Regions from separate parts of the Homo sapiens genome. Here region 2 is reported to be linked to region 1. Evidence: microRNA targets listed by miRTarBase, many of them from high-throughput screens and not tested one by one. Region 1 holds a microRNA gene; the other region holds the end of a gene's coding sequence.

Evidence for each region. The annotated mature microRNA hsa-miR-6505-3p reads UGACUUCUACCUCUUCCAAAG and lies in region 1 at 2,739-2,759, opposite strand. An mRNA with a match to its seed (bases 2 to 7 or 8) in the 3' UTR can be bound and repressed. Matches are read on the target gene's strand: a 7mer-m8 pairs with bases 2 to 8, a 7mer-A1 pairs with bases 2 to 7 and ends in A, and an 8mer does both.
Region 2: the mRNA of BMAL1 is a reported target of hsa-miR-6505-3p. Seed matches in the 3' UTR shown: 7mer-m8 at 1,119-1,125.

The regions. Positions count from the first base shown.
Region 1 is chr12:48,130,200-48,135,605 of GRCh38, reverse strand. MIR6505 (microRNA 6505) reads right to left here and starts at 2,809; the gene lies at 2,739-2,809. PFKM (phosphofructokinase, muscle) reads right to left here. Exons shown (of 23, transcript NM_000289.6): 3 at 5,170-5,243; 4 at 4,213-4,290; 5 at 2,549-2,738; 6 at 2,126-2,291; 7 at 1,330-1,374; 8 at 777-885; 9 at 568-663; 10 at 223-315.
Region 2 is chr11:13,385,999-13,391,404 of GRCh38, forward strand. BMAL1 (basic helix-loop-helix ARNT like 1) reads left to right here. Exons shown (of 20, transcript NM_001297719.2): 20 at 598-1,268. The coding sequence ends at 758. BTBD10 (BTB domain containing 10) reads right to left here. Exons shown (of 9, transcript NM_032320.7): 9 at 2,010-3,143. The coding sequence ends at 2,833. Among named protein-coding and RNA genes, the nearest start is that of BTBD10, 75 kb to the right of the region's middle.

The sequences.
Region 1 (5,406 bases):
GTTCCTCACCATTAGGAAGGCGTAGTCTCTCACCATTTTTGTAACAGAAGAGAACCCTCAAGTGTATGGGAATGGGTCAGTGGCCACTGCAGCCCAAAGGCTGGTGGAGAGGCAATGCGACCAGTGATGTAAGTCCCTGTCTGGTGAAGTGCAGCCCTGAGGGGGCAGGACTACAAGGTTGAGGGTTTCAAGGCATGAGGGCCACACAGCCCAGTGACTTACCAGAATTCTGTCAAAGGCTGATGGCGTCCCACCCCTCTGCACATGCCCCAAGACAGTAACCCGGGTGTCATATCCCAGACGCTTAACCACCAGCTGAAGGGACCAACAGAGGGACAGAGAGAGGGTTACGCAGAGTCAAAGGAAGAAAACAAGCAGAGACTTGGGTAAACCATGGACAGCTCAGCCTCTTGTCTTGTAATGGTTCTTTGTGGGAGGCAATCAGGGGCAGGGAACCAGGGAGAGATGTGCAGAAGGACCAAGGGGAGAAGCAATGTCAGGAGACTCAGAAGCCAGAAGGGAATGGGCTATGGATTCTAAGGCCTCTCTGGCTTCATTCATACGAACATTCTTGATGTCTTCTGAGGTGATTGGTTTTCCATTCTTGTCAATTGCACCCTCAGCCACAATGATGATGTTGAGACGAGAACCACGGGTCCTTGTCTGGTTGAGAACAAAGGGTAAAATGGTCCATGGAATGAAGCTGATGGGTGGGAAAGAGATCATCAGTGGAACAGGGTGAGGGATTTCTTAAGGGCAAAATAAAGTGCAAGTACCTCGCTGAGTCGGCGACAAAGGTGTTCCTCCCAGTCGTCATCTGGTGGACATTCAGGAATAAAAACCCAGTCGGCCCCACAGGACAGAGAGGTGACAAGGGCCAGGTATCTGAGATGAGAGTCAGAAGCATCCTGCTAGAAGTTGTACTCTACAAATAGCCTCACCCATACCCAACAAGTTCTCCTAGTCCTCATAGTTGATAAAAGGTCTGGAGAGCCTCCATTTTATTCGTGGGGCAAGGGTAAGAGCACCGGGGCCCCTCAATGAGATTCTGTCTCTAACGGATACCTTCCATTTATGTTCACCTGCCACAGTGGCTTCCAGCCTCAGAGCACTACCCACTCTTTACACCAAGCACGTGCCTGAGCACGTACACACATGCATGTGTGGGGATGTAACAGAGGGGATGGAGGCCGGAAAGGGAACCACACCACAAGGAGCATGTGCACCTCCAGATCTGCTGCTACTGAGAGACCTCACTGGACTCTCTGGGGAAAAGGAAAGGGCTATCGCTAGGTCCACGGAATAAATGGGTCAGAATGAGGATCTTACCCACAGTGGCGGCCCATTACTTCTAACACAAATGTCCTCTGGTGGCTGCAAGAGATAGACATATGACACAGTCCAAGTGACCCTATGGCCAAGATCAAGCCACCACCCACATCTAGGCCAATTACCCTCTCTGGGAGATACATGTATGCTGCCAGGCCTTCTAGCAGGCTTCCTGAGACCAGGAAGACCTAGGGGAAATACTTTAGCCACAAGGTATCCTTCCTAGGCCTGAGAAAACACAGCAGTAAAAAGTGTCTAAACAGAGGCTCTGTTCCAGGGAGGAACCGGGTCAGGGAAGGGAAGGAAAGGAAAGGATAAGAAGTGAAGGGAGAATTGGACTAACTGGAATCCTTTAGGATTACCCTGGGGTAAACTGTTACCCTTCTATCCTCCCATCCTACATTGCCTCCCCCCAGGTCCCCTTATCTCTGAGCTGTCGTGGTCATAGCAGCACCTATACTTTCTATGATATGGTTGGAAAGCGTAGCTCATGTCTGGGCTCCCTAGATTTGCCCAGTCTGAAGAATAACCATTTACCCCAATGATATGAAAGACCTCAGAGCTGCATATTTGGACAGTGGGCCAGACAGTGGCAAAAGACAAATCATATATCATTAAGGGAACAGTGCAATTTCAGTGCTCTAGATAATTTTTCGTTAAAAATAGTGTTCTAGCCCCAGAAAACTGGCCATTATAGTCACCATAGCTCAAACGCTTTAGTCTTCAGGAGCTTCTAGCCCTTTAGCCTGTCCTAGCTGCCATCTTCTTACACTGCCTACCTCCCAAGTCCCCTTACCTCTGGGCAGTGGTAGTGATGGCATCTACAATTTCCATGATCCGATGCAGGGCAGAGTCAGTGCCAATGGTCATATCGGTGCCACAGAAGTCATTGTCAATTGACCCAACCAGGCCCACAATGTTCAGGTAGCTGGACTTCGTAGCCTCCTCATCTGTGATCTTACCTGACAATGAGAAGCAAACCAGGAGCCACTGGGTGAGGCACCTGGCATGCCTAAAGAGGAGATATCTAGAGAGAGAGAAACTCTAGCCAAAAGGAATTGTAGACAATACCAGAAAAAGGAGGGCAAAGACTGCCTATTTGTGTCTGGGTAACATTTTTCTCCAATGGGAGGTAAAAGCAGGGCGGGGGCGATGTGTGTGTGTACACGCGTGCACGTACCGACACAAATAAGCAATACTGATGTGAAAACTCTCTTACCTGCTTTCTGGAGGTCACTCAACAAGTCACTCCACTCAGAACGGAAGGTGTCAGCCCCAGTGAGGCTGCCATCACCCCCAATGACACAGAGATTGGTGATCCCACGCTTCACCAGGTTGTAGGCAGCTCGGAGTCGTCCTTCTCGTTCCCGAAAGTCCTTGCACCGGGCACTTCCAATCACCGTGCCTCCCTTTGGAAGAGGTAGAAGTCAGCTCCCCAGAGACAGGGCTCAACATGCTGAGATATCCCCTATTCCAATGCTGTGATGGCCTAACATAACTGTGTGACTCCCTAGAAAGTTCCTTGACATCCTTAAGAGTGATCTGTCCCTTCCAAAGGAAAGGGAAATGATGCTGGCTGAGGCATCATAGGGTCATTCCCATATTTTGCTACACATCTGAGAAGACTGCTAAGAACTCCTTTCATTGAAGGCTTTGTCATCCATGACTATCCTAAAGAGAACAAGTGAATACATACATGTATGTTGGCTTCTCAAATAATCTCCAACTTTCACATCTTAGAAGCAGTGACTTCAGTCTTTAGAAATTCTCCCTAATGGCCTGACATTACTGGATTGTGTCCAAATTATTATTAGGAGTTCATCCCAATGTGTTTTGTAGTATTTTTCCTCTCTCTGCACTGAGATTTCTAACTGTACCCAGGTACTGCCAATCCTTTCCCCTTAGCTCCTTGCAATCCATGGTGCTAGCAGCAGAAGCTGCAATATCCAGGTATTCACAGGAAAAATAGCTCTAGGTAAAGAAAGCCTTATAGATACCCCAAGAGAGGTATCTATAAGTCCCTGGGAAATTAAGGCTTTCTATCCCTGAGAGAAAGTATACTTACCTGAGAGAGGTAAGTATACTTAGGTTTTCATATCATATGTACTCCTGGGCAGCCATGACTTTGGGATACTGGTGGAGAATTCTGGCTCATTCTCAGACCACTTTATGGCAGGCACCATTACTTAGCACCTAGGTAGAGCCTTCACTAGACACTGCATATTAAATTTTTGCCCATGGATTTTTAGGGAACTGAGCTGAAAAAAGGGGGATACAAATGTAATTTACAAATTTTCAGTAAACCAGCAAATGATTGTATTTCTCTCACTCACTGTGGGCTAGCCCACAGTGGATACACATGAGAAGCCTAAAACAACATGGAGCAAGTAGCATAAAGGACTGTGGAAATCCTCAGGATACTCTTAGGATTTTTTTGAGACTCCGAAAGGCTGTCTCAGTTCCTTCGTCCTTTAAGTGGTCTGGTTTCAGGTCACCTCATCTCCATCACATGAGGACTGGCAGATTTCAGCTCCACTTCTGGCTCTGGCTCCAGTCCTCTGGTAAGGTTATTTTCAGGGCCAGACCTTCCCTGTGACCCTAGAGTAAGATCTGCTTATGTGTCAGTCCCCATAGTCTTGTTTATGACCTTTCCATAAAGAGCAAAGCATCCTGTGATCACTCCTCCACCCTCTCCCTGCCCCAGGAAACCAGGGTGGTATTTTCAAATGCTAAGAGTAAAGGGCAAATAGGGTCCCTCTCTTGTCACTGAATTCCTTCCCATGAAACCACATGACAGGGAATTTAGGAGACCATGAGCCCAAAACAGAGTGGGATGAAACAAGGACAGAGCAAATATGGGACAGGGAGTTCTCTGGAACATACCAGCTGAAGCATCATCGAAACGCTCTCCCAGGTGGCTTCCTTGATGTGATCTCCACCATCCACCAGGCCTTGATAACCCTGTGTGACACATTATACCTGTTCAGCCCGTTAGGCTTCTCTATAAATTCCCAAGATTAAGACAGGATCCCTGGGAAGAGATTCTCTGAGAGTCAAGCCACCTCCTCCCATTAGTGAGTCCTGGATGCTCGTGAGACTATCATATTTAACACAGTCCAAAGAAGGAGGCATCAACTTTTGCAATACTCTCTTCTACTTTCTCCCATTTTTGAAATACTGGGATGTGGATATCCTTCCTAATAGTTAATCTTAATTCTTATTTTTGGCTCATCCTATCTCCTCCAACCTGCTTCCTAGGGGGCCAATGATAACAGATGGTCTTGATAACCATGGAGAAAAGGAGAAGGGGAAGTTGGTGGGAGGGAAGGAAAGAAACGCGACTTGCTCTAAAAGATTATAAAATCTGATACAAGAAAGCAGGTGGACCTTATAAAAAGAAGAGTGGGTGAAGCATGAGAGGGTACTGGGAGAAGGGTGCAAAAGAAGATTTGAGAACCTCAGAAAGTTATGCAAACTACAGAAATGCAGCAAGTCTCTTTTCTCCTGGGGCTCTTCCTCTGGATATACTAAATTTGCTGTAAATACTACCCATTTCCATTTCTTTCTCTGTTTTGAGGGAGATAAAAGGAGGACTGAGAGTTACTTTTTCCTTTAAATTGAACAGGCAACATGAAGACCCAGTTTGTAGATGCTCAGGTCCCACCATCACTATTGGAGTCAAGTAGGAAAGAGTGACTCATGAAGCTACGGAGTCAAGGAAAATCAAACACAGCAATGTAACTAACTGGGAGGTAAGGACACAGAATGTGGGAAGGGGATAGAAGGCAGATTTAGAAGAAGACAGAGAAAGAATGATGAAGAACAAAGTACAGAACCAACCTCATGGACAAAGAAGACACGGGCACCGGTGAAGATACCAACTCGAACCACAGCCCTGACAGCAGCATTCATACCTGAAAGGAGGGACAAAAGAAGTCACGGAGAGGTTGCTCCTAAGAAAAGGCGCCCTGGAATCCAGAGATATTACATTTGGCTAAAGATAACGAATCAGTACTTTATTTAGTCTTTTCTCTGAATCTAGAATAATCCTCTCATCAAAGTCTTCTGGCCTCCCCA
Region 2 (5,406 bases), not on the chromosome of region 1:
AGAGGAGGCTACAGCTACCTAGACATAGGCTTTCTCCCATGTGGGGCATAATCTCTTCAGAGAGAGAAGGCTAATGAAGGTTCAGAGATAATGCCTAGAAGGGTGATTAGTAAGCATATCAGAAGGTATTAAAAGTCATTAAGTGAAAAGAGTTTGCTTTTCCCATCACATCCATCTTTTTCTCCCCTGGGCTTTCTAGATCTGTTTTTTTCCTAAACTCTCCCTTCCTATTTGCCTTTCTTTTTGTAACTCCTCTTAACTGGTTACATCAGATTATTAAAATAAGCTTGACTCAAATATTTTTAACATTTACTAAATTTTAAGCGCTTTGTACTTATTTCTAAAATGATCATTTGATTCCTTAGAGCTGTCTCTTCACAACGTAACCCCACTTATTTCTTACGTATTTTTAAAAAATTGGTTCTTTCCTCTAAAAAACAGCGATATAAAAAAAGATAGCCATGCAGCCCAAAAAGCAGCATCTCACCCTACCATTAAATGTAACTTTCTTATTAAAAATGTGCTTAGGAATTGCTTACTTAATCTGAAGATGCTTTAAAAAAGAAATCACTGACCAGTCTTTATCTCCTCCCACAGGTGAGAACCCCCACATAGGTATAGACATGATTGACAACGACCAAGGATCAAGTAGTCCCAGTAATGATGAGGCAGCAATGGCTGTCATCATGAGCCTCTTGGAAGCAGATGCTGGACTGGGTGGCCCTGTTGACTTTAGTGACTTGCCATGGCCGCTGTAAACACTACATGTTGCTTTGGCAACAGCTATAGTATCAAAGTGCATTACTGGTGGAGTTTTACAGTCTGTGAAGCTTACTGGATAAGGAGAGAATAGCTTTTATGTACTGACTTCATAAAAGCCATCTCAGAGCCATTGATACAAGTCAATCTTACTATATGTAACTTCAGACAAAGTGGAACTAAGCCTGCTCCAGTGTTTCCTCATCATTGATTATTGGGCTAGCTGTGGATAGCTTGCATTAATTGTATATTTTGGATTCTGTTTGTGTTGAATTTTTTAATCATTGTGCACAGAAGCATCATTGGTAGCTTTTATATGCAAATGGTCATTTCAGATGTATGGTGTTTTTACACTACAAAGAAGTCCCCCATGTGGATATTTCTTATACTAATTGTATCATAAAGCCGTTTATTCTTCCTTGTAAGAATCCTTTACTATAAATATGGGTTAAAGTATAATGTACTAGACAGTTAAATATTTTTAATAAATGTTTCCCTTGTTCTATAAATACTGTTCACATTTCAAATAATTAGAAAAAAAATCCTACGTGTTGCAGGGCTGGATTATAAGTTTCTACAGTGGGTGTTCAAGGATGATCTACGCCAGTAGCATTTGTGGTGCTTTTCTGGCCTTCATAACGATTCTGGGCTTGCATAATTTCCCCATGCTACTAGCTTAGCTGTGTTGTTAAAATAGTTCATTTATAAATTGTTGCAATTTTAATTTATGTGAGAACAAAGATGTTACTGCTTATCCACAAACATCGAATCCTCTGAAATTATAAATTCAAGATTATATTTAACAAATTGGCTTCTCTAATGCTGCACCTCTCTAATACTACTTCAGTTATATAGTAAGTGACCCCAGTCCTAAAGCACCTAAATATTTGATCCCTTCTTGAATTGGACCACAGAATATTTAGAATAGCATTTGCATAAATAATTTGCTAAGCAAAGTAGCATGGTATAATGGAAAAAGCACTGAACTAGTATGAGAAACTGGCTCTGAAACTTAGGGTGACTATATGACCTAGTAAAGTCATTTTGCCCTTCATATCAAGTTGGACTAGAAAATACTCTTTTCAGCTCTAATAAATATTGTTTTGATTTATAGTACATTTTATAATTAGGGAATTTAAATGCCTCATCACACATATAGTAAAAGTTCCTTGAGCTACTATTTCTAATAATACTTACACCACCGAGATGGGAAATTATGAGACTAAAAATCTGGTCAATGTGGTTATAAATTTGGTCAGAAACATTAAAACAATGGAATTTTATTTTGATGAAAAACTCAAGTTTACAATCATTTAGTAAATGAAGAGCAAACACTTCATTTTCCTATCCCATAACTCTTAAGAAAAAAAAAGCATTAGTAAATAAATATCTGTGAACAGATTAAGGGTAAGGCAGACTGGATAATAAACCACCTCTGACATTCACACTCCCTGCATGTGACTCACTCTAAAGGGTGAAATGGCTCTGGAGATAACTGAACTGGTAAGATATGGGCATTAAATCTCATCCTGATCATTCAGATAAGCCCAAGATAAATACTTTTTGCTCATCAAGGGCAGCAAACTATACAAATTGTACTGGAGGAATACTTTGACAGAAGCACTTAAATTATATTGTGCATCACAACTATAAAATGGCTTGAACATTTCCATTTAACCACCATTTATAAAGTGCAACTATATATTACTCTGCATTTTATCTGAGGTGTGATGAATATCAGTCCAAACTGAAAGTACCCCAGCTGCCAATTTCCACCACTTCTGAAAAGACCTAGCTGTGTGAAAAAGGACCATCCCCCATACAAAGAACCAATTTCACAAACCTACTGGTAAACAAATACATTTACAACTGGAACTTCAAAATGCTAGAGTTGTACTCATTTAAAAAAAAACCATTCAGCTACCTTTGGTCTTTAAAAAAGCCTACACTGCAATATCCTAAACATTGTTATGTGCATCTCACAATGAAGAAGAGTGGCCTTGCAGTGCAGAATGAGGAGAGTACAACGTCACTGTGAAGAGTAGCATGCTATGGTTTCAAGGAAGATCAGCATCACAGCATTGGATTCTGTGCATCAGGATCGAGGTCACTGTTGCCAGAAGGGGGATGGATAGGGAGAATATCCAGCTCATCCACTTGTGGAGTTGGATGCATGACTACCAGCTGGTCCTGGGGAATGTCTGCTGCAGCTGCTGCAAGATTGGTGATAGATTTACTCTTTACACACTGAAAGTCTACATGCCGACTCTTTCCTTCTTCCTTCTCCCAGGACATTCGAATAAAGGGTCTTTGGACATAGTTGTAGATCACTTCTGGGCGGCCTCCAGGCCTTTTCTTTACTTTTTCTTTGTAGGTAGGATAACCTGAAAGAAAGAAAGATTTTAAAAACTGAGGAGACACACACAGACCTCTCACCCAATTTCGCCTTAGAAAGCTTTTCTGCTATAGATCCTAAAGAAACAAATTTAAAACAAAGAAGTGAAAACAATATTCCATCCACCTACTCATCAGTTCATGAGCCAGACATGAAAACCCTACTGATGTAATTCATAAAATCTTCTATCATTCTTTCAATTACTCAATATATCAACCATCAAAAAAACATTATTAAAGTAGGAGTATGTTGGAGCAGATCTTGGTCTCTAGCTATGTATCCTTTTTTTTTTTTGACATGGAGTCTCACTTTGTCACCCAGGCTGGAGTGCCATGTGTGACCTTGGTTTACTGCAACCTCTGCTTCCCAGGTTCAAGCAATTCTCCCACCTCAGTCTCCAGAGTAGCGCGGATTACAGGCATGTGCCACCATGCCCGGCTAATTTTTGTGTTTTTAGTAGAGGGGGGGTTTCACCACGTTGCCCAGGCTGGTCTCGAACTCCTGACCTCAAGTGATCTGCCTCGGCCTCCCAAATTGCTGGGATTACAGGCGCAAGCCACCATGCCGGCCTCTAGCTACGTATCCTTATATTCTCGTCACAGGATTACCCGGCCTACAGGCCTGGAATTTAGCCACATTAGCCTGCTAGTTTCCTTAAACCTACATCTCGTCTTTATATTGCTCTGAGTTTTTTCTTTTCTTTTTGTTAAATGAAAAAGCTGTACAGCTGTCCAGGTGGTTCTAGATACTTCTGCATCTAGATCAGCAAGGCCAATATTTTAACCTCCCATATCATTTTAACATTACTACTCCCAACAACCAAGCATTCAATTTACAGTCACATTCCCGAAGCAGCGTTCCCTGATTAATAGTACCTAATATTACCTTCCTCTTTTGGAACATAGTCACTTAAAAGTAAGGACAACCCTAGATTTGAAAAAAAAAATTAGTTATTTACTAGTAAGGCCACTTCTCCAAAGATCAACTGTCCTTAAGAAACTATTATAGACCCCTTCCCTCCTTTCTTCTAGTAAGAATTAACTAGTTTGGGATTGGCAAACATTTTCTGTAAAGGTCCAGAGTAAATACTTCAGGCTTGTAGGCCACATGGTTTCTACTAGAGCTACTTTTCACTCTGCCACTGTAAAGTGAAATCAGCCACAGAGAATACGTAAATGAATGAGCACGTGTATGTTTTTCTTTTTTTTTTTTGGAGATAGAGTCTCTGTCACCCAGGCTGGAATGCAGTGGTGCTGTCTCGGCTCACTGCAACTTCTGTCTTCCGGGTTCAAGAGATTCTCCTGCCTCAGCCTCTCGAGTAGCTGGGACTACAGGCGCCTGCCACCACACCTGGCTAATTTTTGTATTGTTGGTAGAGATGGGGTTTCACCATGTTGGCCAGGATGATCTCAAACTCCCGACCTCCAGTGATCCTCGGCTTCCCATAGTGCTGGGATTACAGGTGTGAGCCACTGCGCCCAGCCACATGTGTATGTTTCAATAAAACTTTATAAAAAAGAGGCAATGAGCTGATTTTGGCCCATAGGCCAAAGTTAGACCATAGTTAGAATCAGAAAAAATAGAATGGTCTCACATAGTAGGGGATCAATTAATGATTACTGCATAAGGGAATGCATGTAGGCATCATTGGTAGCTAGTACAAATAGCCATGTGTGGAGTATGTGTGTATGTGGTGGGGGTGAGATAGGTGCAGCAGGTGAACAAAACTGAAAATCTAAAAACCTGTAGAATGTCTTCATTTCATACTTTTGGTCAATTACCTCTGAAGGCAGCACCAGAAATCAGAAAGGTCTCCATCTCCATTCCCTTGTCCTTGATTCCTCCTGGACTATTAGAAAGACTTTAAAATTCCCATCTCCTTGTATTCTGTCCCCACACAAAATAACCACTCCAGACAAATGTAATCATATTACAATCCTTGCTTAAAAACTACCAATGGTTTCCTCGTGCTTAATTGGAAGGTCTGTACTCCTCAGAATATTATACAAGGCTTTTTTTACAGCCTGGTTCCATATCTACTTACTGTCATCTACTATCATGCTACACTCTAACTCTAGAGTTCTTAAATACACCTGCCATATTAAGCTTTCCCCAAACATGCTTTTACACAAATTGTTCTGCTGCCTCTTCCCTCTCAGCCTCCTGATCCCTGCGCTCCACCTTCTTTTATCCCTGGCAAAAACATTAAGACTCTCCACACAGTTAATCATTCACTTCTTATGCTCCATAGC